Homo sapiens: one gene and its partners. The protein of the gene in region 4 interacts with the protein of the main gene of each other region in a pairwise test. Each region holds a gene or a part of one and is shown on either strand. Other genes may lie near its edges.

Evidence for each region.
Region 1: the proteins of ITM2B (region 4) and COX5B interact in binary tests that used the Homo sapiens proteins (3 or more experiments, as listed by UniProt).
Region 2: the proteins of ITM2B (region 4) and BACE1 interact in binary tests that used the Homo sapiens proteins (3 or more experiments, as listed by UniProt).
Region 3: the proteins of ITM2B (region 4) and RAB3C interact in binary tests that used the Homo sapiens proteins (3 or more experiments, as listed by UniProt).

What each region holds. Positions count from the first base shown.
Region 1 is NC_000002.12:97,641,602-97,648,904, forward strand, and holds COX5B (cytochrome c oxidase subunit 5B, mitochondrial precursor), read left to right. Parts: upstream 1-4,460; 5' UTR 4,461-4,485; coding exon 4,486-4,588; intron 4,589-5,465; coding exon 5,466-5,539; intron 5,540-5,742; coding exon 5,743-5,842; intron 5,843-6,394; coding exon 6,395-6,507; 3' UTR 6,508-6,782; downstream 6,783-7,303. UniProt on the Homo sapiens protein: Component of the cytochrome c oxidase, the last enzyme in the mitochondrial electron transport chain which drives oxidative phosphorylation.
Region 2 is NC_000011.10:117,306,236-117,313,260, reverse strand, and holds part of BACE1 (beta-secretase 1 isoform A preproprotein), read left to right. Parts: intron 1-7,025. UniProt on the Homo sapiens protein: Responsible for the proteolytic processing of the amyloid precursor protein (APP).
Region 3 is NC_000005.10:58,852,051-58,859,075, forward strand, and holds part of RAB3C (ras-related protein Rab-3C), read left to right. Parts: 3' UTR 1-7,025.
Region 4 is NC_000013.11:48,228,636-48,236,207, reverse strand, and holds the start of ITM2B (integral membrane protein 2B), read right to left. Parts: upstream 3,003-7,572; 5' UTR 2,848-3,002; coding exon 2,731-2,847; intron 1-2,730. UniProt on the Homo sapiens protein: Plays a regulatory role in the processing of the amyloid-beta A4 precursor protein (APP) and acts as an inhibitor of the amyloid-beta peptide aggregation and fibrils deposition. Plays a role in the induction of neurite outgrowth.

The DNA of each region.
Region 1 (7,303 bases), on a different chromosome or scaffold from region 4:
ATTCTCTGAGATTTCCACAGTCTAGCAAATTCCAAATGCCTCTATAAATAATAAGCCTTGCTTTTTGGAGGCCAATGTATTATAGGATCCTTAAATCCCCTCCCTTATTAGGTTTCTGCAGTACAGAGGACCAATGAAAGGATTTACCCTTCCACCATTGTTTACATCAACTCAATTTCTAATCTCTGTAAATAGCCCTCTACAAACACCCTCTAGTTGTGGTTAGTGCTGGTTTATCTTGTCATTTATTTATTTATTTATTTATTTATTTATTTATTTATTTAGAGAGGGAGTCACCCTCTGTCATCCAGGCTGGAGTGCAATGGCATGATCTCGGCTCACCACAACCTCTGCCTCCCAGGTTCAAGGGATTCTCCTGTCTCAGCCTCCCGAGTTGTTCAGATTACAGGCATGTGCCACCAGGCCCGGCTGATTTTGTATTTTTAGTAGAGGCAGAGTTTCACCATGTTGGCCAGGCTGGTCTCAGACTCCTGACCTCCAGTGATCTGCCCGCCTTGGCCTCCCAAAGTGCTGGAATCACAGGTGTGAGCCACCATGCCTGGCTTTTGTCATTGATTATTAAACAACACCCACGTGGCAAATTCATGTTTGATTTTTTGGGGCCCCAAGTCTACTTTCATTTCTGCTCCCACATCTGATAGTATTTTTATATGATATTTGAATACATCATTCCATTCTTTGATAATTTCTGCCCTTTCTTCACTGAAATCTAGGATCTGCTACCATCTCACCTGGCTCATCGACATGTAAATCCCTTCAGTACTGATCAATTTCTACCAGTCTTTAGATTTGAAGACCAAAATGCTAATGACCATGATGGATGGTTTTGGAAAAAGACAAGTAGAGCCTCAATGTCTGGCACCTATGGCTGATTTAATTTTAAACTCAGGGAAATGAAATAGGTACTGTGCATAAAAAATATTCAGGTGATTTTATTTAAAGCATTTTTACTAAATTCAAACTAATCAAAAAAACCTTTATTTAAATGACAACTTATTTCAATAATTTTTAAATTTTCATTTTTAATCAATATATAAAAATTGCACATATGTATGACATACGATATAATATTTTGATACATGTATAAATTGTGCATTGATCAAATTAGGGTTTGACAACCTCAGGCTTCATAATTTATGAAATAGACCTCTGCCATTTAAAAACTTTATATCTAAACTTACCAACTAGTAATTAACTGAACATATCAAATAAGATATTATTTAAAAGAGCCTAAATTAATAAAATGTTTAAATACATTTTGAGCTTTAAAATACAATAAATAAATATGACTTATTTTAGAAAAATTTTTTTAAAAAATAGACAAAGGTGGATATAGACAAAAACATGTACAGAAAAATATCAAAAGGACTAAACCCCTTGGAGATTTTAATGGTAAAAGCTTGCTGATATTATTTTTAAAATTATCAACTTTTAAAAAAACATTTTATGGCCATTTGTTAATGAGCATAAGCTTCTACTGAAAATGAAATATTTGCTTCTATAAGAATATACTCTCAGATATTGTATGAGAATATACTGCAGCATTGTATGAGAGGCAAAAAACTAGAAGCCTTTGGAATATTCATCATGGGAGAATGGCTGGGCACATTAACGTACATTCACAGTAGGGAATATTCTGCAGCCATCACGTAAGTTAAGATCTAGATGTATTGATCTGAAGGGACATCTACAAAATATATATATTTTTTGAGCCGGAGTCTTGCTCTGTCGCCCAGGCTGGAGTGCAATGATGTGATCTTGGCTCACTGCAACCTCTGCCTCCCGGGTGCAAGTGATTCTCCTGCCTCGGTCTCCCACGTAGCTGGGATTACAGGCGCCCACCACCGCTCCCAGCTAATTTTTGTATTTTTAGTAGAGACAGGGTTTCGCCATGTCGGCCAAGCTGGTTTTGAACTCCTGACCTCAGGTGATCTGCCTGCCTCAGCCTCCCAAAGTGCTAGGATTACAGGTGTGAGCCACCGCACCCAGCCTACAAAATATTTTTTAATGAAAGAAGCAACTAACTAAAACTTTGTATAGTAGTTATGTTTTTATATTTTATATTCATATATGCAGTGATGCTCAATGGGAATTTTGCAAATCCAGGGGGCATGTGGCAATGGCTGAAGATATTTTTGGTTATCATGTCAGGGAGGTGCTAATGACATAGGGTTAAATCCTACAATGCACAACCTCCCTCAAAGAATTATCAACCCAAGATGTCAGTTGTGCTGAGCTTGAGAAACTCTGTCATAGGGAAAGGAAAAAAAGGATAAGCACCAAACTGCTAGCTTGTTCCTTATATATCTGTGCTGTTCAACTTATAATGTACATTTATTTTGACAACTGAAAATTATCCTATAAAAATAAGTTTATTGTGCTGGCAAAGACAATGATAGAGCAGAGGTGGCAGACTGTTCCCCAAGCCAACTGTTTCCAAAGGAGACCTGAGGGACTGGGTGTGAGTTGACAGTGGTGGGAGCTGGAAGCAGCAAGGGATGCGGGGACATCTGGGGAGCCTGGACCTGACCTTGGAGCTCACTCACACAATCTAAATAATCCCAGAGTGAGGCTGAGGTTTTCCTGAGTTGGATGAGGGCCTGCGAAAATTTCCTATTATTAGGCAAGCCTACTATGAGAGTGAGAAGCCTAAACTCAATTTCCATTTTATAGCCTGGAGTAAACCACTTCTGGTCAGGCAGCAGGGAATCATAACATATCAGAGCTGAATACCTCACTGGTTTGCTGAGGGGCAAGTTAGTAGGTGTTCCTCAGAAAGGATTTTGTGGTCAATTAAGACAGGGAAACTCTGGCTTAAACTGCAGGTAAATTAAATAAGAGGTCTTTACTGCAAGCCTAATCAGAGCCTTTATTATGCTAGTGTCCATCTCCAAAAGGGTGGTCATCAAATGCAGGCCCTCCCTGTCTTGACCAAGTCCTTTTTCTTGAGATCATGTCTTGAGACTTGGATGCCATGCAATACACTTTGGGAAATACTAACCTAGTTGAACGACAGTTTTACTGATGTAGAAATGGCGGCCCAAAGGATAAAAAGTAGCTGAACTAGCTGGTGGGGCTACTTTCCAGACCAATGCTTTTTTCTCCTGCCTAAGACCTTAACCACAGTTGCAAATTAACTACAGATCCTCAGAATTTTCGCCCAATTCAACTTGGAGGGGTTGCAGTGGAGGTGAGGGAGAAGGGAGTAACAGTGAAGCCATTCAAAGCAAAAACCACCTTTAAAGAAATTTTGGCCTTAGAATACAGGGTTTTTTTTTTTTTTTTTTTAATTGGTGGAGGGGGCACCCAGGAAGACCAGACGTGCTCCTGTGAAGCAACGCTCCACCACGTCCTTTTGAAAATACCGTAGCCTGCATGAGACAGGCGGGAGCACCTAAGCCTTCAACTCTCCCCATGTTGCCTCCAATTGACCTCACTGGGCCAGGAAAAGCCCTATAAACTGGTTTTGTATACTCTATCCAAGTAGTAAATTTACTAAAATTACTGGATCCTACTATATACCAGACCTCTGCAAGGCATTGAAGATTCAATGATGAGCATTAATTCCCACTCTAAGGGGATTTTTCTATCTGGTAGGGAAACTCAGATACCGCATGCAGCTAGCCTGTCACAGGGCTATACTGACTAAAGCTCACCCTAAGAAATTTGCACATCTTAGCCTATGGGCAACGGGAAGCCATGGACGGAATATGTTTTCCGTTTCAAACAAGGAACTCCAGTCACAGCAGGCTCTAACTCCATTTCCTATTATCAACTCCCCTTCCTGCTCCTCCTCCCTTAGTAGCCTCGAAAAAGAGTGGCCACTTCCTTCACATCACCAGGGCCTTGGTCCTGGTAGGGGGTCCCGCCCCCGGCCCTGTCCTCCTCCCCAGGCCGGGACCTCCGCGCCTCCCACACACAGTACAACTCTAACACGAAACTGGGCCAGGACTGCAGGTAGGTCCCGTCCAATGCGACACGCTCGCGACGGCCCACGCACTGCCAGAACCAGCCCTGCCACTAACCAGCCTAGTAAGGAACGCAGTGATCTTTAGGAGCCCACTTCTAAATTCAAATCATTTGGGGTTCAGTAAGTCTCTTCACAGACGGGGACCTAATAGCTTCCATTAGCAGCCTCCACGTTTGCTGAACACGACTACGGGGCCAGACCCACAGGAACTCCAATGTGGTTCAGCCGCTCAACTCCAGGGACCAAAAAGACTTTCCCACCTCCCAGCGTTATTAAAGGCAACCCCGCCCCCAAGCCTCAGCCACTACGCGGTGCAGAAAGAGGCAGAGCTGGGCATGCGCAATTTCCGCCCCCGCCACAGTCTTGGGAGTGGGCGGGCTCGAGGGCTGGGAGGAAGCCGAAAGCTGACCGAGAGGAGAAAGAAGCCCGCCCCCGGAAGTCCCTCCTGTCTCTGCAGCTTGTTCCCGGAAGTTTTGCTGCTAGTCGCGGACGCAATGGCTTCAAGGTTACTTCGCGGAGCTGGAACGCTGGCCGCGCAGGCCCTGAGGGCTCGCGGCCCCAGTGGCGCGGCCGCGATGCGCTCCATGGCATCTGGAGGTACTCGGGTCTCCGGGCGTGCCAGGGACCAGAGTGTTGCCCTCCCAGGGTGGTCCCAGGGCGGCAAAGCGGCGCGGCTCGTGCAGCTTCTCGAGGTCCCAGTGGCCGCTTTACGGTCCCCAGTGCCTCAGGCTCTGCAGGCATCTCCCTGTAATTCTGGACCGCTGCTCCTGCCGCTCCCCGAACTCACTCCGCTGCGAAAGTATCCTAAACGGAGGTGCCGGGTGACCTTGGGAGGGACCGGGGCTGCCACCGGGATGGGGAGGGGTCCGGCCTCCCTTCAAACCTGCGCCCACCTCAAGCAGAGTGGGTTCTACATGCTTTTAGACAAATGTCGACAAATTTGCCTCGGTGGTTGGAGAAAGAAAAGCTCATAGGCCGGGCGCGGTGGCTCACAACTGTAATCCCAGCACTTTGGGAGGCCGAGGCGGACAGATCCCCTGAGGTCAGGAGCTCAAGACCAGCCTGGCCAACATGGTAAAACCCCGTTTCTACTAAAAATACAAAAATTAGCCGGGCGTGGTGGCGCGCGCCTGTAGTCCCAGCTACTCGGGAGGCTGAGGCAGGAGAATCGCTTAAACCCGGGAGGCGGAGGTTCCCGTGAGCCAACATCGCGCCATTGCACTCCAGCCTGGGCAACAAGAGCAAAACTCCGTCTCAAAAAAGAAAAAAAAAGCTCCCCCGAGTGCTGCCGCTTGTGTGGATGGGTACTTGGTGGTTCTTAGGGGACCATGGATATGAGTAGCCTTTAGGAGCTTGTGAGCCCGCTAAAACTTATACAGAAGTTTCGGGGCACCATTTTCCTTGATCATTTCTGTTTGTAGTTTTTCTATCAGTCATTTCAGTCAGCGTCATAATTCACGTTATCTTCCTTTAGGTGGTGTTCCCACTGATGAAGAGCAGGCGACTGGGTTGGAGAGGGAGATCATGCTGGCTGCAAAGAAGGGACTGGTAAGGAGAAACTCCCTTCTGTGTCTTCTGTGTAACTTATGGCCTTGGATGTGTTCATAGTGGTCTCCTCTCTGGGAGTATTTGATACAGGAAACTTGGCTTGTAGGAACAGTCCCCTGAGCTTCTGGAAGGTAGGGCTTATTTGGCCTAATGGTTCAATTCTTGTTTTTTTTGTTTTGTTTTGTTTTTTGTTTTTTCTTCAGGACCCATACAATGTACTGGCCCCAAAGGGAGCTTCAGGCACCAGGGAAGACCCTAATTTAGTCCCCTCCATCTCCAACAAGAGAATAGTAGGCTGCATCTGTAAGTACCTCACCTCTATTTTTTATCCACTTGCTTAATATATCCTACAATAGTGTGTAAGCTGCCTCAAATCTTCAGTGTGTGAGTGCATGTTGGTAAGTTTGTCTAAGGGTCTTGACACTCTCAAGCCTCATTATGCCTGATAGTTCATCCTTACTGGAAAGAAGCGCAGCACAGCGGTAAGACTGGCTCACTGGGAGTGCGGCATGAAGGAGTACCCACCCAGCAAATATTTATTGTTATACTGCTTCTATGCCAGGCATCATTTTAGACACTAGGGATACATACCAGAACGGACCCTGCTTTGCGTTCTACATAGGCAAGGGAATTGTTAGAATTTACAGTGACCTTGATACAAGGTCAGTTTACTCATAGGTGAACTCAGAGCCTCAATTTCTTCATCTGAAGAATGGGAGGAGGGCTTGAACTGATCTCTTAAGATATCAACCATAGTCTTACTTGTGTATCAGAGATGTCTGAGGAAAAGAAATTCATGTTGAAAGTCTCCCTTTCTAGGTTGGATGACCATAAACCACCTTTTTTCCCTTTTAGGTGAAGAGGACAATACCAGCGTCGTCTGGTTTTGGCTGCACAAAGGCGAGGCCCAGCGATGCCCCCGCTGTGGAGCCCATTACAAGCTGGTGCCCCAGCAGCTGGCACACTGAGCACCTGCACTAAATTACTCAAAATGTGCTGTAAAGTTTCTTCTTTCCAGTAAAGACTAGCCATTGCATTGGCTCCTTCTCCCATAGATGGCTGGTCTTATTTCTTACCCGTATTCTTTGGTAGGCATGGAATATGCTTATTTTGGGAAAAGCTGTCTGTTAATGCTAGCTTGCCATCCACTTACTGAAAGTGTATAACCAGTGTATAGTGCTTAGATTAATAATAAGAATAGATCGACAACCCGTAATGCAATGAATGGGACCACCTGGTATGAGAGAAAGGGGCGGGCTGAGGAGTCAGGCTGACAGGACTTAAAATATTGGCTCCATCATTTGGCTCTATCTCTGTGGACATGTTCTCTGGGGGTCAAGTACAACTACAAAAAGGTAAGTACCTTACAAGGTGCTTAATATGTAAAGAGCTGAGTGGATAGTAGGTCCTCACAGTATCCTCATAGAGACAGGGTGGCCTTGTGAAGAGAGTTTTGGGGATTTTGAAGTCTTGAGGGACCCAGGTGCAAAGTAAGAATTCATGGGGATACCAGCAGCAAAATTCAGAATATGGAACAATTTCAGAAATCACTGACCATGTTTCTTCAAATAAATTGCAAGGAGTGGGGGGAAAAGCTAGGGAGAACATGTGGAGAAACAGATAAGGGAGATACCAGTCAGCAGCATGCACACCTTGTTTAGATCTTGATTTGAAAACAATTATAAAGGAAAAAAAATTGAGAAGAATTTGAACTCTGGATATTTGATATGTAGACATTTACCACCCTTTCAGGTATTTATATAG
Region 2 (7,025 bases), on a different chromosome or scaffold from region 4:
GCCAGGGAGCCCACAACTAAAGCAACTGTGTGGCTTGCACTATGATTTCTAACTAAGCCTGCATCAGCCAGTCTCTGCTCTCTGGTGGCTTGGACTCTCTCCCCATCTGTCTGTAAGAAGGACGCCCTTTCTTCCTACCTGGCGCGGCTGTTGTAAGTGCCAAATGAGAACTTGGATGGCATTGTATTCTGAACAAGAAAAAGTAAAATTTGGGGAGCACTTTCTCTGTGCTAGGCAATTAATTGGTGGTGCCTGGGGGCTGATCCACAAAGAGACAAGAAGACATGTTTTCTGCCCACATAGAGTTACAGTGGAAGTGAAAGGGCGGAAGTGACGAGTACAAGGTCATCCATGCAGATATACTCAAAGCGAGGTCGGCAAACCCTCATTGGAGTCAGCTAAAAATGTAAATTCCCTGGCCCCATCCCTGACCTCTAGAGACAGGATCTCTGACAGTGGGGCCCCGTAGTTTGTGCCTCAAATTTGAGAACCATTTATGGCTGGACGCGGTGGCTCACGCCTGTAATCCCAACACTTTGGGAGGCTGAGGCCGGCGGATCACCTGAGGTCAGGAGTTCGCGACCAGCCTGGCCAACGTGGTGAAACCCCATCTCTACGAAAAATGCAAAAATTATCTGGGCATGGTGGCAGGCGCCTATAATCCCAGCTACTCGGGAGGCTGAGGTAGGAGAATTGCTTGAACCCAGGAGACAGAGGTTGCAGTGAGCCGAGATCACGCCATTGCACTCCAGCCTGGGTGACAGAGCGAGACTCCGTCTCAAAAAAAAAAAGAAAAGAGAATAATGTATTTATAGGAGTGCAGAGAGTGAGTGCCACAGGTGTTCAGAAAGTGATAAACTCATCCAGGAAAGCCGCACCAGGGACATGTGCTCTGAGCATGGTCTTGAAGGATGGACAGGAGTGGCAGGCTATTCCCAGGGGGCAGATGGCACCATACTATCCCACTGTACTGTAATTGCACGTTACACGTATGTCCATGTCTGCTCCTTCCCACCCTACCCCCTTAAAATTGGGAGAGTCCACAGTGAATGAGAGGATGAGTTATGGATGTTAGGGCTTAAGCATGGTTGTTTAGGAGACAATAGAGAGCCAGTCCTGTTAATATTACAGGTTTAGGCTAAGACCAGATAAGTTTGGGTAAATAAAATAGAGCCAAATAGCCATAAAGCTTAAATGTGAGACTATAAGGTTTGGACTTTGGCCTTCAGATATAAGGGAAAATCTGAATTTATTGGGGCAGGGGAATGACATGAAGAAAGCAATCTTTCAGGAAGAGACATCTGAATTTTAAAAAGAGTGGGGGCTGTGTGTGGTGGCTCACGCCTGTAATCCCAGCACTTTGGGAGGCCAAGGCAGGTGGATCACAAGGTCAGGAGTTCGAGACCAACCTGGCCAATATGGTGAAACCCCGTCTCTACTAAAAATACAAAAATTAGCTGGGTGTGGTGGCGCGTGCCTGTAGTTCCAGCTACTCGGGAGGCAGAGGCAGAAGAATCTCTTGAACCCGGGAGGCAGAGGTTGCAGTGAGCTGAGATTGCGCCACTGCACTCCAGCCTGGGTGACAGAGCAAGACTCCGTCTCAAAAAATAAATAAAAATAAAAAGAGTAGGACTGAAAGACACAGGCACAGGGGGCTGTCACAACAGTCCAGGTGTGAGGCCCTCTATGACAAGGAGGGCATGAGGCTGCAATAAGATGGAAAGAGAAAGGAAGGGCAGGATGCAGAGAACGTGCCAGGGCAGGTGGGAAGGATTTGGTGACATTGGTGTGAAGGGAAAGGAAGAGGGCATCAAAGATGGTTTTGAGATTCTGATCTGGGGTGAACTGGAGGATAACAAGACTGTGGGAATAGGAAAGGTGGCAGGAGGGGATGGCTTATAGTACTTGTATACAAATTTATTTGCTTGTTTATTAATTACAGGGTCTCTCTCTGTTGCCCAGGCTGGAGTACAGGGGCACAATCGTAACTCCTGGGCTCAAGTGATCCTCCTGCCTCAGGCTCCTGAGTAACTTGGATTACAGGCACATGCCACCAGCCCCAGCTGATTTTTTCAAATTGTCTCACTATGTTGCCCAGGCTGGTCTCCAACTTCTGGGCTCAAGTGATACTTCCACCTTAGCCTCCTATTAGTTTTTCCCTTACAGCAATTCCTGCAATATATAAAAGGTCTTTACTTCAGTGAGCTGTGATTGCACCACTGCAATCTCCAGCTTGTCAGAGGATGACAGAGACCCTGTCTCCAAAAAAGAAAAAAAAAAAAAAAGGTCTTTATCACTCACAGTGTCTAGCAGAAGAAATGGGGTTGAAAGGTTAAACCACTGGCCAGGTAGAAGGCCAGTAAGTTAAGACCTGTTTCATCCTTGTTCTTCCTACTGTGCCATTTGTCTTGGGGAAGAAGAAGTTATCACAAGCATCCCTCTTCCATTCTCCCATTACACCTGCTTATATCTCCATTACTACACTTGTAATGTATTACAACTGTTTTTGTGTTTGTTTCTCTCATAAAACTTCAAGCTCTGGCCAGGCGCAGTGGCTCACGCCTGTAATCCCAGCACTTTGGGAGGCTGAGGCAGGAGGATCATCTGAGGCCAGGAGTTCAAGACCAGCCTGACCAATATGGTGAAACCCTGTCTCTACTAAAAATACAAAAATTAGCCAGGCGTGGTGGCAGGCGCTTGTAATCCCAGCTGCTCGGGAGGCTGAGACAGGAGAATTGCTTGAACCCAGGAGGCAGAGGTTGCAGTGAGCTGAGATTGCACCACTGCACTCCAGAGCGAGACTCTGTCTCAAACAAACAAAACTTCAAGCTCTTAAGGACAATGTCTTTTTAATTTTATTTATTTATTTTGCAGTATCCTCTCTTTGTGTTATAATAATCTATAACAATACCAAGCTCAGAACATACACCTAAAAAACATTGAGTGAATGAATACATAAGCTGCAAGCCTCTAAACAGAACTGTTGACAGGCAGTTGTAAATGCAGAACTGTAGCTCTTAGAGAAAGTATTTTTATTCTTTTAAACGAAAGGGCCAGGTTCAGCAGCTCACGCCTGTAATCCCAGCACTCAGGTGAGGCCGAGGCGGGTGGATCACCTGAGGCTGGGAATTGGAGACCAGCCTGCCCAACATGGTGAAACCCCATCTCTACTAAAAATTCAAAAATTAGCCAGGTGTGGTGCTGCATGCCTGTAAACCCAGCTACTCAGGAGGCTGAGGCAGGAGAATCGCTTGAGCCCGTGAGGTGGAGGTTGCAGTGAGCCGAGATTGCGCCACTGCACTCCAGCCTGGGTGACAGAGTGAGACCCTGTCTCTAAATAAATAATAAATAAATAAAAGGATGTTATCTCATTTTGATATTATGAGCATCACTGACCAAACATAGGATAATAAGGTAACTGTTAGGAGTGAAATTTGGTGATAGTCAATTCAGTTTAACAGATATTTGTTGAGTACTTGCCTACTGTGTGTAGAAGAGAAAAATAATGCCATAGTCTTAGCCCTTGGACAGCTCACAATCTGATGTGAGACATAGACATAATACCTAAATATTACACAAAACCAAATGCATTTGGTACAAATAGTGAAACAGTGGATCTTGGAAGTGCACAGAGAGAAGCAGCTACTTCTGACATGGTATTAGGCACAGCTTGCTGGAAAAGGAGGGTTTTGTTTTGTTTTTGTTTTTGAGAGGGAGTCTCGCCCAGGGATCCACCCGCCTCAGCCTCCCAAAGTGCTGGGATTATAGGCGTGAGCCACCGCGCCCAGCCAAAACGGAGGTATTTGAAAGAGGAGAAAGCTTTGCAATATGGAGAGTGGTGAGGAGGAGCACTTCATGAAGAAAAGCGTGAACTGTGGTGAGAAGCCAGAAGGCATGGTGGGGATGCCATGGGGCTGACAGGACTTTGGGTTTTATTCTGCAAACAGTAAGGAATCCTTGTAGGTATACGAGAAGAGGGATGATATCGTCTAATTTTAGTTCCAGGAAAACAGCTTCAGTGTGCAGAATAACTTGGAGAGTCTAGCATCATGACTCTAGACATGCAAACAAGGATCTCAGGATACGGGGGCCTGAAAGAGGATGGTGGCAGTGAGGGTAGAAAGGAGGAATCAGCATTCATCCATCGTTTAACCAGTTATTCTCTGCGCTTGATGAGATGTATGGGGTGAGAGAGAGGGAAGAGGAGATGATGGCTTTATTTAACCTCTCTGACTTTTTGTCAGGGAACAAAGCAACAGGGGAAAGCTTTTGAAGCACAATATAGTTTTTTTGTTTGTTTGTTTGTTTTGAGATGGAGTTTCGCTGTGTCACCCAGGCTGGAGTGCAGTGGCGCGATCTCAGCTCACTGCAACCTCCACCTCCTGGTTCAAGTGATTCTCCTGCCTCAGCTTCTCAAGTAGCTGGGATTACAGGTGCCCGCCACCACCCCCAGCTATTTTTTTTGGTATTTTTAGTAGAGATGGGGGTTTCACCATGTTGGCCAGGCTGGTTTCAAACTCCTGACCTCAAGTGACCGCCCGCCTCAGCCTCCCAAAGTCTTAGGATTACAGGTATGAGCCACCGCACCCAGCCAGGAAGTACAATATAGTTTACCAAAGTTTATGTTTATTATTCTGCTTTAATTATAAGGGATAGGTATTAGCATATCTATTTCAGGGATAAGGAAACTGAGACCCAGAGAGACTAAGTGTCTTGTCCAAAGTGATTCTGTTAAGAAGAACAGAGTAGGGGTTCAAATACCGGGGCCTTTCCTTCCTGTGTTCTACGATCTGGGACATGCCTTTGAGATGCTAGTGGGTCATCCTCGTGGAAGTATTCAGCCACCAGCTGACAGTGGGAATCTGGAGAGAAGTTAGAACTGGACAGGCAGACAGGACTCATCCACAGAGAGGCCAAGTTAAAAAATAGACTTGTTCTTTGAGGGAACAGAGAGGGAAAGGAGAAAAATGATTAGGAAAAGAATATTAGGTATAGACAAGGGAGCAAGAGAAAATGATCAGAGCAGTAGAAAACTATGAGGGCTCAGAGTCTCAGAAACCAAGAAGGACCAGGTGGTTTTTCTTTTTTTCCTCTCCTTCCCTGCTTGGCAGGGTTCTGTAAAGGGACCTCAGCGGTGAGGGAGAAGGCTGGGAGCAGTCAACACTCTAGATCCCCGCCCTTCCTGTCACCAAGCCATCCCCATCCCCCCGCCCCAAATCTCCTGAGCATCCCAGGATAACTTTGCTTTTATTGTTTTTATACAGTGGACTTCTGGGTTATATTTTTTTAAAAAAGAGTTTTTGCAATAAAAAGGTTGAAAACCATCGAGCTCAAAGAACCACCCTCCAAATTAGACAAAGCCAGCAAGACCCCGGCTCCATAAGTTGCCTACCCAGTCCCTGCCACCACAACTGGCTTTCCTGGATTGGGCCTCGGGTTGCACACAAGCCCTTGCTGGAGCACTCATCCTGTCATTCCAAACCTCTCCTCTACTCCCCAGACCAGTAAAGAAGAGTTTAGCTGGGAGTGAGGGGGCATTGAGAAAGACTGTGCTCTCTCTAAAAGCACTAAGGTGGAAGGTCAGGAACCCTTCTTGGGCCTCTCCAATAAAGGGCTGGGCAGAAAATTCCAGTTGAAAATCCAGAAAGAGGCCAGGCACAGTGGCTCACACCTGTAATCCCAGCACTTTGGGAGGCCGAGGCAGGCAGATCACCTGAGGTCAGGAGTTCAAGACCAGCATGGCCAACGTGGTGAAACCCTGTCTCTACCAAAAATACAAAAATTAGCTGGGCATGGTGGCACGTGCCTGTAATCCCAGCTAATCAGGAGGCTGAGGCAGGAGAATCGCTTGAACCCAGGAGGCGGAGGTTGCAGTGAGCCAACATCATGCCACTGCACTCCAGCCTGGGCGACAGGGGGAAGACTCCATCTCAAAAAAAGAAAATCCAGGAAGAGAAACACCTCCCAGGGAAGCCCCCATACCTAATGACTAACTTCTGTCTCTCCTGGGAGCCTTCTCTTTCAGGTGCCTGGGCAGGGGAGAGTTCTGGGAAGGAACCAGAACATTTTCTGAGTTCTGGAGCTGCCCTGAGATTCTCCTGGCAGGATGCGACAGCACCTGAGTACATCCTTAGTACCGCAGCCTTGGGTACTATAGCCAGGTGTTTCCCAAAATAGGAGAGCTGGGCTGTGCTGGGGAGAATGAGGAAATCAGCAGAACTGGGGGGATTCTGACGTGGGGGAGCTGGGACTCCTAGGTCCTTTTCCTCAAAGCAAACTGGCCAAGCTCTGCCTCCTCCCATGCCAACTTATCCTCTGTCACCATATTTCCTGAGCTGCTGTCACTCTGGGGCCACCCTCTCTGCTGCGCACTGTAGGCTGGGTGTCCTCTTGCTTGGTCTTTCAAGGTCAGTGAATCTCATCACTTAGCCTTTTTTCTTTTTTTTTCTTGAGACAGGGTCTCACTCTGTTGCCCAGGCTGGAGTGCGGTGGCGCGATCTCGGCTCCCTGCAACCTCCACCTCCTGGGTTCAAGCAATTCTCCAGCGTCGGCCTGCCAAGTAGCTAGGACTACGGGCACGCACAACCACACCCGGCTAATTTATATATATATTTTGGTAGAGACGGGGTTTCACTATGTGGCCAGAATGGTCTCAAACTCCTTGACCTCAAGTGATCCGCCCACCTCAGCCTCCCAAAGTGCTGGGACTACAGGCGTGAGTCACTGTGCCTGGCCCTACCACTTACTCTTTTCCAAGGCCTGTGGAGGTTTTGACAGGTAGGACAAGGAGTGAGTTCTAGCATCTCCCAATGGCTTGAATAAACAAGCCCATGTGCTGAGCGTGACACAGGTGCCATGGTCAGCTTCATTTTCAACTGAGGACAGAGCAAGAGAAGATTCAAGCCACTGTAACCTGTGGGTGGGACAAGGTTAAATAACAGGAAGGACTTACTGTCTGACCATGAAAAACAGGTGGCGAATAGCTGCTGTGATACCTTGTGGAGCATGGGTTTTCCAGGTGGGTT
Region 3 (7,025 bases), on a different chromosome or scaffold from region 4:
AAGCAAGTATCTACCCAGGACTGCTTTTTCCACTGATCCTTCCCAATTCTGTGAATATTCAACATCATTGAACAGATTGAGACATATCTACTGAATGCCAGTTATGCAACAAGCATTTTAACCAAGAAGGGTATGAGTAGCTATGGAATTCCAAGGTCCAAGCCCCCTTATTTTTCAATGACTTGCCTTCCCCAACCCCCATAATGCACACCACCACCACCATCACTTTCTGGAACCATCACCAACTCTTGGACTAGAGCTTATGTTGAAGCTTGTTAGGGCTCCTCTTTCCGTAGGATGTAGACTTGCCTCCCCAAACACGGCCATCTTCTCAAACCTCAGCTAAGTTCTTTTACCTGTTTAGATGCTATTTAAATCAGATTTCAAAGGGTCCCCAGTTGAGAAAAAGGAAAATTTTAATCTTTAATCATCTTTTTAAGTCCAGATGTTCATAAATTCTAAAGCATATTCCTATTACGTGAATGCTTAAGTTACACAGGAAACATTCTATAACTGTAGTATTTCAATTTCAGAAATATTTAGGATCCATAGCAATTTAAAAGAGGGAGGAAACCACTGGAGCATTCTAATTTTGTATCACAAACTTCCTAAAGGACCTATATGAATAAAGAGAAAACAACAAATCCTACCAGCTGTACAGAGAGCAACAGGGAAATTTGGCCTCTGTATCACTGTCCAGCATTATTTAAAGCTAGGATTTAGGAAGGAAGCAGGAATTATTTGGCAGATTTGGAAGGATAGTTTCGTTAAGTGAACTTTCTACTTTTTTGGTGGTTATGTCAAAGAATTTTTTTCCTCTTCTCAAAAATAGAGAGGCTTCCCATGAAAGTATTGGATGCAAATGAAACAGGCATACATCTAAAGATATCTTTGGAGAATAAATCCTTACAAGTCACAGAACTAGGTCACACACATTAGTAAGTCAAAAGTTGGAAATTAGGGGAGAGAGCATTTGGAATGCTTTAAGCATTTCCATGTTATTTCTCACCTTCCTAGTTGAAGATCCACTAATCAGTAGTACATTTCTACTTTGGTGCCCTACAAAGCAAACCTTAGCATAGTAAAGACAAGAAAACATTAATGTTTTATTAGTTTTTAATGGGGCAACCAACTTCAAAATCACAGGAATTACAGTGACGGGAGAGAAAGAAGCAGGAGGCATAAAAACAGATTTGTTTGTAGCAGTAGTCTGTTTGTACAATGTTATAATATTTCTGTAACTTGGGCCAGAATGTGGCCATGTTAAATGATATAGCTATTAAGCTCACTTTTACAATCTAAAAGGAACTAATAAAGCCAGGAAACCCTTCTCATCCTCCTTCACAGCCCTCATCCCACACATAGATGTAAAAAGCTTAGAAAGAATATTCTGATGGCTTTTTCAGAAGGAAGGACCTTGATGTGTGTATTGTGGTAAAATGAAAAGCAAAATGAGACAGTATTTAAAAGTGAAAGAGCAGAGTTTTGCTCTGCTGAAAACCCCTTCCCTGAAGAACTGATTGCTGTTGAAGTTAATTGGCCCTTAGATGGGAAGCCCTAAGCCAAGCTCCCACTTACACAGTGTCAAACATCCCGAAGTGGAAACATTTTATGCCAGTCAGGGGAGAGACAGGCAACAATAGCCCAAATGTCATTGCCAAGAAACATCTGATACTTTCTAATTTCTAAACCCCAATGGAAGTGAGGCCTTTTTCATTGATTCTCAGTTCTGAAACTCCCACCCTGTTAGGATTTCCATTCCAAATAATTCAATGAGAGGTTTCCAGAGAAACAGTCACAGAGCTCAAGAGAAAGAACACTTAAATGCTCCTGCTGTAATTGCATCAAAAAATCCGGGTTTTAACATCAAATTTGGCAAATGGTGGGACCAACCCAAGGTTAACTAAGTGGGCTTTCATTGGCATTGAGCTATGTTACTTATAAATTATAACACTATAGTTCCAAGGTTTTTCAGCCTTTTGGCCAACACACACACACACACACACACACACACACACACACACTATACCATCATCTATCAATAGTCTAAATACATAAATAAATGCAGGTCATTTTTATCAATGGCCTAACTAAATTTATATTTAAAAGAACAAGACTTTTAAAAAGTACATACTCCTGTTGGTTTGTAAGTTATACACATTTATCTCTTGTCTTTGATTTAATTAAATTAGTGTTTTAAGTATGAATTTATTTTCCTTTGCTACTCATTACCTGACCACTTTCACTCCTCTAGATACCCTTAGGAATAAACCTGAACTGTTCCAAATCGATTCTTCCAAGAGCTTTGGTGTTGGTACCTTCCTTTCTTTTCCTAATGCAACTGAAAAATTAGACTGAAAATTATTTGACTTAAATAGCCATCCTCAGAGTGAATCAGCATTTCAGTTTTTGGAGATGGGGATGGAAGTAGAAGGTGCACAAAGCGTCCTAAGATGGCAGTTTGAATGTTAGCATCGCATCTACATGCTCATAAGAGGAATTGCTTCAGGACAATGAATCAGTTCATTGTTGCTGCCCCCAGTGAACAGCTCCAACTGCCTTGATGAACTTCTAATGACTGTGAAAGCTAGGAGGTTCTTCTAGTTCCTCCTTAGGGTCACTTGAAGTTCAGTATTTTTTTGCTGCCTGGTAACTAAGTGCTAAGATTTTTACTTGGAAAGAAAACTATGACAATGCCTTCAGTTGTAGCAGAAAGTTGTGGCATTGTGATAATAAACAAAATCTACAAAGTTACAACCCAAATTATACAAGACATCAAAACACTCAGTAAACAAATATATATATTTCACCTACTTAAATCTTATTCATATTAATTATAGGCCTTTTGTTTAGTACACTGGTTATTTTTTAAGGAACCAATTTAAACTTTCAATTTTAAATACATCTATGCTGACGATAGACTTTCGGGTATATACAACCTTCTTCTTCTCTTTTAAAAGTTAAATACATTCCACTATTAACTGAACTTCCATGAAGCAACATTAATTTTAGAGCATGGTAGTCCATAATCAGTGGTTCATTGTGATGTGCTTTATCCAACATGTATCTTAGTGCATGGTTGAGGATGTACTATGTGATATTTTAGTTAACAGTGTGGCATTTGTGGGACTATATTAAAAGCATATCCAAACTACCAAGCTATACCAAGCTGAGGTAGGTAACACCTGCATGTGAAAAACTGTGATATGAATCTTATTTATAAAAAAGTCATAACTAAAACCCTTCTAGACCAAAAAGTTACTGTGTGTTTGTTAATAATCTTCATAGTACTACTGGAATGCTCAATCAGTTATTTTTGGTGTGGCATACTTCAGAGCTGGCCTGTCCGTCTGAAGAACCCTTTCTCTCACAATTACAGTTTGCATGACTAGAACCCGGAACTCTGTTCCTTTGCGTGTATAGTCACTTAGTGTGCTGTCCGGGTGCCACATGAGCAACTACACCCATGTGGCCTTTCTGTCACTCCCTGGAAAATGCAACCTCTACAGCTCTGCTCAGCTCTGCCTGTGTGCATTGATTACCTTCGCTTTAGTAGTTTGCCTGTAAAATGGTGAAGTCTTTCTGATATGCTGAACCTTTGAGCCAGCTTTTGGGAGTTCTTCATATTTTAGGTGAATTTTTGACCAAAGTCAATTAAAGACATAAACCTGTTTTATATCATGGAATTTACTGGGCCAAATTAAGTAAAAGATGAAGTTTATGACCAGAATAAAAAAGCCTTTACCCCTGCACAGCACTGTATCTAAAGGGCTCTAGGTTGTAGAAATATAGTACCCCCTAACAGGGAAAAACCAAGTTGGGGGATTTATCTAAAATGTATCTACCTATTGTTACTGGTATTTCACAAATAATTTTTTTCTTAAAAATATTTACAGAAATGCTTGACACTCCGGTCAAATAATATTTCCCTTTGATAGATTGAAATATTTGCTTTTAGATTACACATACAGTGCTGCCCTTCTCAACAGTCACTCACACGCTCACTCGCCTGTACAAAGGTATCAGGCAAACACTGATACTTTTTTTTAAGAAGGCAAAATTCCATCTATGGTGCTTTCTCAGTGCTAGGGAAAAGGGAGCTTTTACTATGTTCCAGCTATAACTCACATCTTACTTATAAGGTCCATAAAATCGGTTCTTCACACTGATTTCGTTTGATTAGTCTGTGCATGTAATTAATTTCCTCCAAACAGAGAGAGTGGAGGGGAAATAAATTTTGCAAGCATTCTAGATAACAGAAATGAGTCATTTTAAAACCTCACTCAGAGCTCGAGTGTTAAGATCAGACCATCTAGCTAGTGGACAAATTGAACTTTCTATTTGCAGTTCTCTTTTACTTTCTGACTTTCTTTTAAATTACTGCAGTTTTTCAAAACACTATCCTCATGGAATGACAGGACCAAGAATAGAAAATGAGACTCAAATTTCACCATTTACTTCCCATCAGCAACCATTACTGGTGGAGTTTCAAACAGTCATTACTTGCTGAAATGAGGTTTGAGGTTACCTGTGTATTTCATTCACCTGTGTTAATATTTCCTTCATCGTGGACAAGTGAGAGTTGGCTGTGGCTTTATTTCTTGAGGCAAATTATTTTGCATTCATGTTATTTGGGGCTAGGTATTGCTTAGGTTCGTGAATGCTGTTCTTACAGACACAGATGGTACCTGAGCCCCTCAGACACCTGCCCTTTCAGGGACGTGAGCATGACTTACATCTGTCAAGTGGTTCCATACTTCTTGTAAAAGTAAAGTTTGGGTATTGTTTGCTGTATCAATATGATGGCTTTCCATGCATTGTCTCATTATCCCTAGGATACGTGCTAAAGGAAAACTGTCCTGTAATTCCTGTTAATATATTGTTAATGTCAGACGTGATGTGATACCGTTAGACTGTCCAAATGTACAACAATTTAATGGTGTTTGTAGAACTGATATGTCTTAAATGTTGCATGAAATATGTTATAAAAATAGATTTGTTTTCTATTTTCAACACCTCAGAATTGAGGGTTCATGGGCCAATAAGTGCAATATTTAATGACTCACTCAGTGTATATAAACTAGTATGAAAGAGTGAATTATAATGAATGTGTGAGATGCTTTGATAGCTGTGTGACTTATTCAAATGATTTTCTTGTAGCTGTATTTGTCTAGTGGTGCAATTTATACAGTAAATATCTTATTGGTGTCATGTAAAACCCCTCTGTGCCTACTTCAAAATACTTTTTTCTTATAAAACCAAACATTTAGTATCTGGAAATATGTGTCAATTTTATCTCTTAGAATTGTGGATTTTATTGTCAAGACAGAATGGCTGTTCATTTATTTTATAAAAGCATCTCCTTCTATAACTCAAAATTTTCTTTAAGTGTCATATAAAAGTGTACATTTTACTTTTAAGCAACTAATTTAGATACCTAAGAAAAACTATGTGCATTAGGAAAAGTCATGTTTTTCTTCTCAGAAAGGTTGATCACATGACATGTCTACTAAGAATTTTCACCTCTGTACTTGTATGTATATTTTATTGTTACTCAATCTTGTATTTTATTTACAAATTCAACACTGTCAACCCTGGGAATTCTAAAATACCAATGTATTTTTAGGTTGTAGCTAATGTTGTATTCACTTTCAATTCTCAGTTGTCCACACTGGTGATATAAGAGGAACAAATCAGAATCATTAAATACTTTGTAATGCCATCATAAACTCATATATTCATCCTCAAACTCCCTTGTTTAATGCTAATTGGTGGCCTGGAACTTCACTGAGATGCAAAATCAAGAACTGAAGCCTAGTTGCTAGATAACGAAAAGCTATAAATGTTTATGTATGTGAATTTTAAATTAGAATAACCGTCTTAAACTCCTACTTGCCATTTCTAAGGCAAAGCATTCATTTTAATATTGTACTTTGCCTTTTCATTCAGTTAGTGGAGTAAGTCATGAAACCCTTAGGAAGAAAAACAAGTTATGACTTATTCACTAAAATTGATGCAAGACAGTTGGTTCTAGATGACCATGGCCATGTGTTCATCATATAAAACCTTCAGTTCTCTCTATGGTGCTTGGCTGGAGATTGACATGTGAGGATGTGCCAATCATATTAAATGGATTTGGTCTATGTGGGTGATATGTGGCCTGAATGTAACTGTGATAGACTGAAATTTGTTCTTAGCTCTCAAAATCCACTGAAGAAGTCAAGTGAAGGTGGGTAAAATAGGGAGATTAGTGACAACTTTGTGCCAAATTTTTTAAAAAATGGAAGCAGGTAGCCAATATTAGAATGATAATTTAAGGGTGTGGTTGAATTTTAGTTAGTTGTCACATAGTTATTGAACCTCATATGCTCAGTGCTGTGGGAATCAAACATGGAAGAGGTATGGCTCCTGCCCCTAATGAGAACAAGGGGGAAAAATCCAGATATAATCTAAATGCTAGGTTATGTCAGGGTATAGGAACACAGAGAATGGGGGACCTGTAAGAACTGGAAGAGTCAGAGAGGGCTCCATTGAAGAGGTCAAACATAATTCCGGAAAGAATTAGGTAGTGAGGAGATTGTGCCAGGAAAATAAGTGGGAAAGGCCACAGTTATGTTTCCTTTGAATGGAAGAGAGACAAAGCTATCAGCTATAGATCATTGTTTTCTTAAGACAGCCAAACTGGCCCTTTGAAACCATTCAAATTACCCCAGTTTAGCTCCCTACCTTTTAGTCTCCGTGAGGAAGACAAGCTGTTGCATTATCATATTCCTCTGTGCTGAGCAGCTCAAGACTCAGCCACAATATGCAAATTGCTTTAATGCCATATTACGGCAGTTGATTTAGACATTTGCCAGTGCACCAAACCATGAGAGATTGTCCGACCTAATGCCACCTGGCAGATGTGTACCCAGAGATTTTTCTGTAGCTCCATGTTTCCCATAAAGGGCATTGGAAATGCACAGATGAAGATCTTCCTTTGGAACCAGGCACATTTGGCCCCTTCTCAGTGACTGCACTGTGGA
Region 4 (7,572 bases):
TAAGAGCTTTATGCCTACTAGGAGAGGAGGAAGGTGAAAACAATTAAGGGGAAAATGCAGGAAAAGAATAAACAGCAAGCTAGTTGAGATAAAACTATCAATAGAAATGGCTGTTAGGATTAATAGCTGCTGAAAAGATAAGACTGAAAAATGGGGTAATAGAACTGTTTCTGGAGAGTTCTCACCCTGCAGAAGAAAAAAATAGAAAGACAGGAGCAATGTAAAAGTACTGGAATGCATGTTATATAAGCCAGCTGATTAGAGTGATCAGAATTCTTGTGGCATAAGGTAACAGAATCTGCATTTTAAAACCAGAGCAGGTGGTCCCTAAGAGCACATTTTGGAAAACAATGGTCTGCGGGATATTGTGATCTGGGAGGGTTAAAGATAAGAAAAATTCTTGTTCAGGAGTTCTAGGCCATTAACTAGCTTGGTTTGATTCTTTCAACCAACCAGGCAAAGGAAATGCCCTCGGCAAAACACATTAAGGCTGATTCTGTTCCCAGTCCAGGCAGTCAGACAAGGTGGCTGCCACAGAGCCACCCGCAAGGAGCCAGAGAACATTATGTAATCACTGCCCAAGCTCTGAAATGAAGAGATCAGAACTTCTTTCACAAAAGTCTGTCATTAAGGTTTTCCTTTTCCCGTTAAGCGACTGACTGATTATAAGGATTCTACTTTTAATGTAGAGAAATATTTTGTCATCCCCTAAAGAAGTCTTTCAGCTTATAGCTGGAAAAAGAATTAGTCATTTTTTATCTACCAACTCATCCGTGACTGCTGGGTGGTTTACAAAGACGACTCTGGCCCTCACTCTTTAGTCCCAGTAGTATTTTTCTTTGGATATGGAGGATCTGAGAAAATAAAAAATGGAAAACAAAGCACGGAGCTACCAATGATTACTTATAGCTGCAATGACCACAAAATTTAAATATGGTGAACTCGTGAGCAATTTTGAGAATCTGGCAGAGTCACTATTTCAGAAATGACAAAAATTGTCAGAAGTCAGATTTAATGGTGCTCAGCAAATGTAATTCTGATGTTTGTCCAGAGTTTCAAATCTCCACTACAGCGGAACAGAGAAAAGCTGTCTGAAGTGACATCATCCAATGCTCGCTCACTCTCTCCTTTCTAAATGGGAGCAGTTATATTTGTTAATAGGATTTTTAAATGTATGTGTGTATATATATATATGTGATAGCATTAAGACTACATATATTTGAGACTGTTGTGACTGGATACTTGACTCTCAATCTATTTTAGGTACAACGAATGTTAGATAAACAAAGAGCTAACATAATAATTTGCTACTGCAATTTTCATCTGTGCATTCCAAACATTTTCTTTAAAGACCAAGATTGTTTGCAATGGCTTCAGGAAAACAATACCAATACGAAAACCAAAACCTTTAATCCTTTTAGGGAATCAGTTCACTGTTCCTATTTCAAGGCAAGGCAAGTCATTTAGAAATCAACCTCTGACGTGTCTGTTTTTATCAGAACATTTCCAGAAAGTAAGATTACCATTATATTCTGAAGATAGATTATATTCAGAATATAATAAATTATAATATGATGTCTAGATTACCATTATATTGTGAATTTTTTACAGTATATTAGTGGCCTGTTTTTCAGCAATAATTTTCATTCGTCCATATAAAAACTCCCATTATTCATACGTGGCACACCAATTTTTTTAAGTTAAAACTAAATTTACCCTACTGATAATAGGTCTTGAAAAATGCTAACAACAACAAAAAATAAGATAAGCAACATAACTTTACAGTTAATTTCTAATTTTTGCAGCCTAAAAAGGGTCTGGGTAAGAGGCTGTGGGCTTTTTTAACTTATGAGACAATTACACTCATATTTAAGTAAATATGATCGTAACCTACTAAAAGTCAACACAGTAACAGCCCCACTTCATGAATTTTCCTAGGATTAAAGGGAGATTTTGTAAAATAAAGGAGAATTTTATTAGGGACCCGGGGGCAAATTTCTCATGTTTAGTTTCACGCAGCAGGAGTCCTCACAAAGACGCTGATACAATTTAAATGCCAACAATTGGTTTTTCACTAACATCCACATAGTCATTACTGGCCTTTACTAGTAATGGTAAGAGACAGCCCAAACCTACTTCGGGCGGACTGTCCCTTCGTCCCCTCTCCAGGTGAAGTTCACCTGCCACTACCGAAGGGCCGTGGAAAAAGGAGGTAAAGAAACGCTTTTAAAATTAAGACGCTTACAGTTGCTGGACTTAGTCCAAGTGCTGTTCAAGCCTAGAAACGAAAGTGGGAAACAACAGAGGTTTAGGCTTGTAATGATGTCAGCCATTTTAGGTACATTATTTATACTGGGAAGGAAGTGCCAAACTCGGTTGTTGTTGTTGTGCCTGTCGCTGCCGGTCCCCAGATCGAACAAGCCAAGTCCTGGCTGCACGCACGCTCCCCGGACTGCACAAACGACCGGGAATTCGGCACAATTAGCCAATCGTTCCCTCTCCAGGCCTCCCAAGCCCCCGACCCCGCGTCAGGCACCGCTTCCAGCACACGCACTTCCTTACAAAGGAGCTGCGGACCCACAGGAAACGGGAGCGCCGGGCTCTCTCGGGGACTTGTCCCCGCGGCGCGAGCCCCGCGCCCGCCACCTCGGGGCGCACTGCCGCTGCAGTCCGCGCAGCCCTCCCCGGCCGGGCCCAGCACCCGCTTCCTCGACCTCCCCGGGCTCGGACCTTGCAGTCCACCGCGACGGCGTCGGGGGGGATGATGAGCGCCTCCTCGCCGCTCTTGGGCTCGTCCTTCTTGGCCTCCTTCTGGGCCAGAGCGGAGTTGAACGTCACCTTCACCATGGCGCGGCCTGGGGCGCCCTCGAAGGGCGGCGGCGGGCTCGGGGCGCGGGCTGCGGGCTCCCGGCTGCGATTGCAGCCTCTACGGCCGGGCTCCGGGAGCGGCTCCGGGCGGCTGAAGAGGTTCGGGAAGCTCCGCGGCGGCAGAGGCGGCTACTGCGGTAGGGATCTCGCAGCCTCCCAGCTCCCGCGCGAGGGCGGAGACTGCTCGCACATCCCCTGGGAGGCGGGGCGGGGGCGGGGGCGGGGCCAGCGGCCGGGGGTGGGGTGCTGCGCGGGACCCTGCCCTCGCCCCGCAGCTGGGCGCCGGATCCCGGCGCGCCTCGGAGAGGGATGGGTGTCCCTCTGGGCCGCCTGGAATTTCCAGTTCTGAATTCGCTCCCAACCAGGTTACCTCCAGGCCGAGTGCTGCAGGTTTGTAGCGAAATCGAGTGAACTTTCCTGAGTTCGCCGGGTACAAGGGACTAACCTTTGGCAGCACCAGACCGCCGCTTCCCTGTACCCTGTCCCCACCGCGAGCCTAAAGGCCATGGAATTTTTGTGCATCCACATCTTCATTTTCTCACTTATTAGGTAACCGACTCAGTGGAGCACAAACATGTTTAAAGCTCTCTGTCCTTGAGATCTGACTTTATCTTTCACGGACCTCACCCAAGGGCGTTTACCTGGCTCAGACCTGCCTGGTCTTCCTTCCCTCTCTCAGGAGGTCAGGGCCTGTTCTGCCTAGTCCCAGACCAATGTGGAGGAAGCTCTTGGCAGATTTGTATTTCAAACATCTCACACTCGTAAAACGAAATGTTCCACTCTTGTGCGTACTTGGAAAAAAACCACATGCACACTTGGCTGATTTGTGACTCAAAGTACTCGATGACGAGTCCCTTTATTTTTCTGCAAAATGAAAAAATAATTAAGGATAACGCAAAATTCTCATGTTTTGAAGACGTTTCATTTACAACTAATGCGAGGTAGAATACTGGCTCCCGTCGTTACTGCGTTCATTACTGTGTCAACAGACGGCCCCCTTGGACAAATGTGTTATCTTGTATCCTTCCACCCCATTCTGTCCTGGTTCATCCAGAGTTGTGGGTGTGCTCTAGAATGTTACAGCTGTGTCAGCTCTGCCTTGGGCCAACCCTGAAAAAAGTGGGTTCAGTCTGAGATCTTTGGGGATTTGGCCCTGCTCAAGGAGGGAGTTGGGTATTTCCATAGAATGTCAGATCATAAGTCCCAGGGAAACAGCCCAAGATCTCCAAATCCTTCTGTTCATGTATTTCAGAAGCATCCTGGGCTGAGATAGAAACCCAGGCCAGACTTTGAGTTTGCTTTGGGTATTCAGAAATTCCTGTCAAAATGAAATCTGCTCAACCAAGAGGAGGATGAGTTAGGTTCCAGTTCTGGTGAGTTTTAACAGTAGCTAACCATACTTGCAGCAACTTATTTAAACTCCTGGGTCGCCCTTGTGCAGGCATCGGCTCTGTGAGGTTGACTCTATGGACTGGACTTTCATAGTATCTAATGTTATCTAATTCCTCAAAGTCAACGACTGCTTCCAGCTCCCTAGTTTAATAGGTTCCCTGAGACATTACAGTTGAAGACTAAGTATTTCTGGAAGCAAGATCTGGAGGATTATAAATAATTATATGTACATCCTTCCTACTTCGTTCTGTGTTAAAATAAGATGGTAGAAAAATACTCAAGGCATTTTGCAGTAGATGATAGAGAAGAATCTGGCTGTCATTATACTCCGGGGGGAAAAAAGGAATTACAGAAGAAAATAAAACAAAATTCTTCGTGAACAACACTACTGAACAGACTAGGAAGCTGAGGCAAAGGATGAACAAATGAGGTTGACAAAACTAGAAATCCTCCCCGCCCCAGGATTTCTATTTTGAAAGACTCATGAATAAAAGACCATTCATTATTTTGTGTACTTGCAGTGAGCAACAGTTTAAAATCAGTTGGCAACCGGTCTGGGAATAATCTCCTGGTTTTTTTTCTCCATTTTATCTCATGTGTCTACAGAACTGTGTAGTGCACAACAGCAGGGATAATAAAGACGCTGGAGCAAGACCAAACATAGCAAATCCAGTCTTGTGATTTAGAAAAGGTTGCCCGTTGACCCTGAAAACTTAGGAGCCAGGGAGGAGGAGAGTCCATGACTCAACAAAAGAAAGTTAAAAACATAGTTATAAGTTACTATTAACTACCAAATGTAAAGGGAGTCTTAGAGGACCTTTGTTTTCCTTTTTGACGTTGAGTTTGAGAGAGCAAGATGAATCTGATTCCAGCTCTGCATATCACCAGCAACCATGTTTGTTTTTATGCTTACCAAAGGAGGGAGGAAAAAATGGAAGTGGGGAACTGAATTCTAAAATATTTTAATAGATTTGCATTATGTGCTTCAACAGGGATTTTTTTTTTCTTTTTAGGTTCTTTACATCTCTATTCTGTCTGTTCTTTCTCAAGGAAACAATTCCTTATTCAGAGAAATTTCTTGTGGTTTTACAGAATGATTGGAAAACTTTATTTTATTTTATTTTTCACAAGTATAGGGTCCTTGGTGAAACAACGTCACTGAATAAGCCCTTTGAAATGTGCTCCTGTTGCCTCTTCTCTTAACCCAATGTGTGAGTTTAGCTGGTCATCTTGTGGCTTTGTCTGAACTTTCATAAAAGAAGTGTTTCTTCTAGGTGAGAGCTTTGAAGGCTTTGACTGACCTCTTCAGAGACTTAAGCACTGTTTATTTTTCTTACCGACTTCCTATTTCAATATTATATATGCTTTTCAATTATTTTAATTTATTTTATATAAATTATTTTCATGTAATTTTAAAATAATTTATCATTATTTTCCTTGAACTAGCAGATGCATTTTTTTTTCTTTTTCAAATCTTGGGCTCTATAATATCCCGAGACCCTTTAGGAATTATCCTAATAACAAATGCAGATCTCTTTTGATTTGACTGGCTGTGGCACTTGGGATTTTTGTTTTGCTTTGTGAAAAGACTGGATATGCTCTGCACTGATGAAAGAGAGGGAGAAGCTGGGTGAGGTGGCTCATGCCTGTAATCCCAGCACTTTGGGAGGCCGAGGCAGGGAGATCACCTGAGGTCGGGTGTTCCAGACCAGCCTGACCAAAATGGAGAAACCCCGACTCTACTAAAAATGCAAAAAATTGACCGGGCGCGGTGGCTCACGCCTGCAATCCCAGCACTTTAGGAGGCCGAGGCGGGCGGATGACGAGGTCAGGAGATCGAGACCATCCTGGCTAACACGGTGAAACCCCGTCTCTACTAAAAAAAAAAAAAAAATACAAAAAATCAGCCGGGTGTGGTGGCGGGCGCCTGTAGTCCCAGCCACTCGTGAGGCTGAGGCAGGAGAATGGCGTGAACCCGGGAGGCGGAGCTTGCAGTGAGCCGAGATCACGCCACTGCATTCCAGTCTGGGCAACAGAGCCAGAATTCGTCTCAAAAAAAAGAAAAAAAAAATACAAAAATACAAAAAATTAGCCGGGCATGGTGGCACATGCCTGTAATTCCAGCTACTCGGAAGGCTGAGGTAGGAGAATTGCTTGAATCCAGGGGGCAGAGGTTTCGGTGAGCCGAGATTGCGCCATTGCACTCCAGCCTGGACAACAAGAGCGAAACTCTGTCTCAAAAAAAAAAAAAAAAAAAAAAAAAAAAAAAAAAAAAGAGAGAGAGAGAGAGAGAAAGGGAGGAAAAAGATGGAAAAGATGAGAAACACAAACCATAGAAAGAGTGAAATCAAAAGATGGGAAGACAAGCCACAGACTAGGAGAAAATATTTGCAAAACATGTATCTGATGAAAGACTTGAATCCAAAATACACAAATAACTCTTTAAACTCAACAATAACAAAACAAACCACCTCATTAAAAAATAGGCCACCAAGCTAAGTGCAGTGTCACAAGCCTATAGTCCCAGCTACTCAGGAAGCTGAGGCCAGAGGATTGCTTGAGTCCAGGAGTTCAAGGTTGCAGTGCGTTATGATCGTACCTATGAATAGTCACTGCACTCCAGCCTGGGCAATATAACAAGACCCCGTTTCTATTTTAAAAAATTATTTTTCTTAACAGGGTGTAGTGGTGCATGCTATATAGTTCCAGCTACTTGGGAGGCTGAAGCAGGAAGATCACTTGAGCACAGGAGTCCCTAAAAATAAACAAACAAATAAATAAATACAAATCAAAATTAAATAAAACAAAAAATCCAGTTCCCTAGTTGCAATAACCACATTTTAAAAAAATGGGCAAACAATCTGAAGAGACCCCTTACCAAAGAACATACACAGATGGCAATTAAGCATATGAAAAGATACTCCACATCTATCTTTACCTGTATCATTAGGGAATTGCAAATTAAAACTACAATGAAATACCCTGAACACTTATTAAAATGGCCAAAATCGGCAACAGCGACCACAACAATTACTGATGAGGATGCTGGGCAACAGGAACGCTCATTCATCACTGATGGAAATGGAAAATGGTACAGCCGCAGTTTCTTACAAAACTAAACACACTCTTACCATAATATCCAACAATTATGCTCCTTGGTATTTACCCCAAGGAGTTGAAAACTTATGTCCACCAAAAAACGCTGCATATGTATGTTTATAGCTGCTTTATTCATTATTACCAAAATGTTAAAGCGACCAAGATATCCTTCAGTAGATGAGTGGATAAACTGTGGTACATCCAGATAATGAA